Regions from separate parts of the Homo sapiens genome. Here region 2 is linked to region 1. The links come from fine-mapping of genetic effects on gene expression. A gene starts in region 1. The other region holds a variant in brackets. All regions are shown on one strand. Distances are from middle to middle.

The links. PIP is the estimated chance that this variant, and not a neighbour inherited with it, causes the effect.
Region 2: its variant is the best candidate, but not a certain one, in a credible set for the expression of TMEM220 in aorta (GTEx, PIP 0.80).

The regions. Positions count from the first base shown.
Region 1 is chr17:10,728,821-10,731,733 of GRCh38, reverse strand. TMEM220 (transmembrane protein 220) reads left to right here and starts at 1,711. Exons shown (of 6, transcript NM_001004313.3): 1 at 1,711-1,954; 2 at 2,674-2,703. The coding sequence starts at 1,883. TMEM220-AS1 (TMEM220 antisense RNA 1) reads right to left here and starts at 1,957. Exons shown (of 4, transcript NR_073458.1): 1 at 1,834-1,957. RefSeq lists enhancers at 1,086-1,672, 1,673-2,259 and silencers at 1,653-1,892, 1,903-2,072.
Region 2 is chr17:10,880,786-10,883,698 of GRCh38, reverse strand. It overlaps LOC124903926 (a long non-coding RNA gene), which reads right to left. Exons shown (of 2, transcript XR_007065619.1): 2 at 2,804-2,913. Among named protein-coding and RNA genes, the nearest start is that of PIRT, 44 kb to the right of the region's middle. The variant C/T (reference allele first, on the strand shown) is at 1,528.

The DNA of each region.
Region 1 (2,913 bases):
GGTTGGTTTCTCATGAGGCCTCTCCCCTTGGCTTGCAGACGGCCGTCTTCTCCCTGTGTGCCCATGTGGTCTTCCCTCTGTAACTGTCCCCTCTTCGTATCAGGACACTAGTCATATTGGATTAGGGTCCACCCTATAACCTCATTTTAACTTAATCATCTCTGTCAAGTCCCTGTCTGCAAATGCAGTCCCATTTTGAGGCACTGGGGGTTAGGGCTTCAGCATATGAATTGGGGGTGCAGGGGGAATGCAAGTCAGCCCCTAGCACTCTCGCTCTCATTTTTTTCTTTTATGTAAGGAAAAGCACAGTGAGAATAGTCTTCGCTTGTTTCCAATCCCAGGGCTGATTTAGCTGTGGAACTCCACCCAGTGCTGGTCCCCGCTGTCCCCACCCCACCTCTGCAAACACGGGTGCCCACCCCCGCCAGCCGCCAGGCTCCCTGCCTAGTCCCGGCACGGGACCTTCACGGTCCCAGCACCAGGCACAGAGCAGACAACGTTCTTGAAATAAGTGTTTCGTGAAAAGAATGAAACTGAGAGGGAAAGAAAAAAAAAACTAGACAGTTTTAGGAGATTTAGCTCAAAGGAAAAGAGGACAGGCACAGAAGCTCCTGATTTGAAGCGATAAAGACTCTTTAGAACAGCAGAAATGAGGCCTATGGATGTGTAAATGAGCCCGGGGAGGAACTAAGCAGAAGGGCGAATTACAAAACAGAAAAAGACCAGACAGACTAGGGGAGAACAGTGAATATTTCAGTGTCTTCGGTTCATAAGAAATTCATGAGCAATTTTGGAAATTTTGTTGGTTTTGGTGGTGGGAGAGAATTGTAAATATGTATAATATGTAAATATCTTTTATAATAAAAGCCCATGAAGATAAATGAGCCTGTCTGCCGAAAAGCTGTGAGCCGTATAAGATGTTAATATAACTGTCGTCACTCTAGAAATTACCATAATGCTTACAGGGATTTGAAAGTTCCTGAGCTTTGGAAGGAAATGCATAAATACTAAACAGAACACACACACACACACACACACACACACACACACACACACACACATCTCTTTTTCTTTCTCTTTCTTATTTTTGTAAAAACAATTTTTATCCTTTTTTTTTTGAGGAGTCTCGCTTTGTTGCCCAGGCTGGAGTGCAGTGGCACAATCTGGGCTCACTGCAACCTCCGCCGCCCGGGTTCAAGCAATTCTCCTGCCTCAGCCTCCTGAGTAGCTGGGATTACAGGCTCCCGCCACCACGCCCGACTAATTTTTTCGTATTTTTAGTAGAGATACGGGGTTTCACCATGTTGGCCAGGCTGCTTTCGAACTCCTGACCTCAGGTGATCCGCCCACCTCGGCCTCCCACAGTGCTGGGATTACAGGCGTGAGCCACTGCGCCCAGCCCTTTCTTTCCTTCTTTCTTTTTCTTTCTTTCTCTTTCTTCCTCTCTCCCCTCCCGCCTGCCTTCCTTCCTTTTTTCCTTCTTTTTTTTCTTTCTTCTTTTTTTTTTTTTTTGTGAGGAAGGTAGCTTTAGTGAAAACAGGGTTTGGAGTTGAACCTATACGGGTTCAAATTCGACTTCCGTCCACCACCGAGACCTGCGCTCCCTGAGGGACTCGCTTTCCCATCCGCGAAACCAGGACGGCGCCGCCTACACCCCGCGGCGTTCGGGGCGGGCTGAATGGGTCGCTGAGTGGGGGCTACACCCACGCCCTTCGCTCCCCGCCCCCGGGCGGAGCGACGGCCACGGCAGTGTCCCCAAGGCACCGAAACCGAGGCGGGGGTCTCGGTCCCTCCGCGCAAGGAGGAAGGCGGACCGTACGTGGCAGGACTCACCGCCCCGCACGTGGCAGGACTCACCGCCCCGCGCCGTGTTCTCCGAGCCATGGCGCCAGCGCTGTGGCGGGCCTGCAACGGACTCATGGCCGCCTTCTTCGCGCTGGCGGCCTTGGTGCAGGTCAGGCGGCCGCGGTGGGAGGGGGACCCGCCCGGCTCCCAGCTCCGCCCCCTGGCCTAGCGGGCCGTGTAACTGACTAGCGGGCAGAGTCGCAGGGGCGCACAGTTAGTGGGGAGGACGGGACTTGGGCTTTCTGCTTGGGGAGCCCCCACTTTCTCCCCCGTCTAAGAGACGCGGATGTGTTCATGGAAGCGAGTCCCATACCAGGGCTCACACCCTGGAAGGGGCTGGTTCCGCGCGTGGAACTTCCCAGGGGACCTCAGAAGAAGCGGCCCTGGCTCCTGCGTTAACGTCCGGCCCGCGGACGACACTGAACATATCTCAGGGCCTAGGAGACGAAGCCGACCAAAACCCTTTATAGCATCATTAAACTTTTTAGTCGGCTTGGGGACCCCCTTCATAATCATTTCCCTCATTTCTTGAGACTGGTGGGGGTGGAGGGCCCTTAAAATACCCGTTCTGGGTTGGCGAGTCCTCTCCAGAGCTCCCGTGAAGGCTTTTCAAAAATGTGTGGCTGCCTGTTAAAAACATCTGTTGTGTCAGCCAGAAACCCCTTCACCCGTCCTCATCTGGACTATATCCTGTTCAGATTTTGTACCCTCGATGCCTATTGCAGTGTCTGGCACTTAACAAATTAATAAAAAATGTGCTTAAATGAATTTAAAAGGAATGGAACAGCACAGGATGTCTGCTAACACCTTGGTATTCTGGCGTTCCAGGTAAATGACCCAGATGCAGAGGTGTGGGTGGTGAGTATGAGCCGCTTCCAGGCTTTCCTCCGTTTGGAAGAATTGGGGAACGGCACAAAACACACGGTTTTATGTCTTTACCCCTCCTCCCTGCTTAATTTTCTGAGAAACTTAAAAATCAAACCCTTGGGAAGCGCTTTTTCCTAAAATATTAATAGGCAGGATCAGAGTTCTAATGTAATGTGTGTGTGAATTTCGAACTTTCTGGAA
Region 2 (2,913 bases), 150 kb before region 1:
CTCCCGGTTTTAAGGGTCATGCGGCCATACCGAACAACCCACTACCCTCCTTGTCATAGTCAACTATTGAGCCCTGTGTCATTCCCCTCATTTCTACAAGATCCCGGCACCTGGGTCATGGTCACCCTCTCCCATACTACCTCAGCTGTGATTCTCAGTGATTTTGCTTTCCATAGAGAAATCCCTGCAAAGCCCTGGACTGCCCATTCCATGACCTCCTCTTTTCTGGGGATTGTTTTCCTCCATCCTAACTCATCCACTCTCCCTTATAGTCATGCCCTAGACCTTTTTACACAAGTAACTGCACTCTGTTATCTCAATTCTAAGAATCCTACTTTCCAACCACCACTTCTCATTTTCAGTTTGCCAATTCCAAAAATTATTGACCCCTCTATAAACTAAATACATGATTATATCTAAATATATGATCAATACATGGTTGTACTGTCCCTCAACTCCTCCATTGCCTCACTCTTCTTATCCAGCTTCCATTCAAGTAGGTGCTGTTACCATTACTCCCCAGAACATACTCCAGCTCCTTTTTTCCTCACTCCCTAATTCTCACCTAGGAAAAAAAACCCTCAACCCTTATTAAATCTCACTCTCTAACTATTCTGAACCTTTATCCAAGCAGCTGAACTTAGTGGGAGAAAAATACGCAAGCATATTGACTGGCCTATTTCAAATGCATGAGATCCTACCTCAAGGGGCCCAAATGCTACCTTCCAATCCTACTCCATTTCGCAAGTCATCCATTTATATGCTTTTCTGCCTAGTGTGATTGGAGAAAATCCAATTAAGAGACTAAACTATTATTTTGTAACTTCTTTCTCCTCCTCACTCTGGACTAAGAAAATAGAAGCAATCAGAAGAAAATGTTGCAGGCTTCCACCAAGACATCTACCACCCTCAGGGCATTTGTCCTAGAAGCTCTGCATTCCCACTCAACATCACAGATGAACTGAAAGCTCTAATGCCAGCCCTTCTGCTTGAACCCTAGGTCCTCATTCTCTTTTTCAATAACAAGGTCATTGATCGGTCAGCCACGCTGTCTCCTGCACCATCAAATTTTCTCTCTCTTCTTGACCTTTTCCATCCAATGCAAAACACAAACCCTTTGCTCACCCTTTACCTACTTCTAGTTCCCACTCATTTCTCTGCTCTCCTTTGCAGAATGGTCTCCAATTTCTGACCTCTTTTTCCATCTTGAACTCAATGCTTTTGGGCTTTTTTGCCCATCACCTCACCAAAACAGCCCTTATCTAGGTTTCCAATACCTCCATGTTACAAAGCCCAATCATCAATTCTCGGTCTTCATCTTACTCAGTCTCTCAGAAACATTTGACAATTTTTGTCCCTACCTTCTTCCTGAAAGTCTTTTATGATTTGCCTCCAGGATGCTCTTTTCTCTAGAGTCTCCTTCTACATCACTGGCCACTCCTTCTTGGTTGTTTCTCCTGGTCCCTGCTCAGATCTCAGACGTCTGAACATCAATGGCCCCAGACCCAGCCCTCGGCTTTCTTTTCC[C/T]GGTCTACCCTTCTCACTAGAGACCTCTCTAAGACCTCTTTCAGGCTCATGGTGTTAAATGCAATTTACACTGATGGCTCCCAGGTTTATCTCTCCTGCTAGACCTCTCTCCTGAATTCCACATGCCTCAACCCAACTTTACATCTCAGCTGGATTCTTAACACACATCTCAAACTTTAAACGAACAAAACCCAACTCCTGAGTCACATACCTCCCAGTCACATACCTCCCAATTCTCTCTCTCTCTCTCTCTTTGTCTCTCTCTCTCTCTCTCTCTCTGTCTTTCTCCCCTTGCTCAAAAACAGCTTCCCGTCGCACTCAGAGTAAAAGCTAGGGCCACCTGCTACCTCTCTGATTTCATCTTCCACCACTCTCACATGGGATTATTCTGCAACAGTTGCATTGGTCTTCTTGCTGTTCCTTGAATATACCAAACATGTTCCAGCCCTCAAAACCTTTGCACTTTCCATTTTCTCTTCTTTAAATGCCCCTCCTCCCAGAGAGCTTCATGATATGGTCCTTCACTGCTTTCAGTCTCCGTTTTCATGCAACCTGATTTGAGAGACTTTTTCTGACAACTGTGTTAGGTAGCAATTCCCTTTGTCCCCATCCTGGAACCAGAATGGGAGTTCTGGGTGAGCAGGTTGTATCTGAAGGGCTTAAAACAGTACCTAGGATGTGTATAGGTAATTTGTAGCTATTTGTGGTAAGCTCCTGTCCTTTTGGAGCTCACACTTTAGTAAGACAGACAAACATTGAATAATTAATGACACATATAATTAATCCTATTGCTGAAATATGTTGTGAAGAATAATTATAGGCCAGGCATGGTGGCTCATGCCTGAAATCCCAACATTTTGGGAGGCTAAGGTGGGTGGGTTACCTGAGGTCAGGAGTTCGAGACCAGCCTGGCCAACATGGTGAAATCCCGCTTCTACTAGAAACACAAAAATTAGCCGGGTTTGGTGGCATGTGCCTGTAATCCCAGGTACTCAGGAGCCTGAGGTGGGAAAATCGCTTGAACTTGGGTGGAGGAGGTTGCAGTGAGTGAAGATCACACCACTGCACTTCAGGATAGGCAGCAGAGTGAGACTCCCTCTCAAATAAAAAAAAAAAAATTACAGAGTAAATTTAGGGTATACGAGTAGCATATTCAAGGATGTTACATAAAAAGGAATATGGCTTCCAGACCCTAAGCTATGGGAACTCTCTAACTCCTTAAGGATCAGAGTTACGTGTCTCTTAGAAAAAAAAGGATGACATAGACATATCCAAATTGACTTGTCCTAGGAATTTCCAATTCTCTAGCATTTATTTATCCAAATATCTCTGCCTCCACTTTTAGCCACATGTAAAGCATCCTCAAGGTAGGTGGCAGAGCAGAGG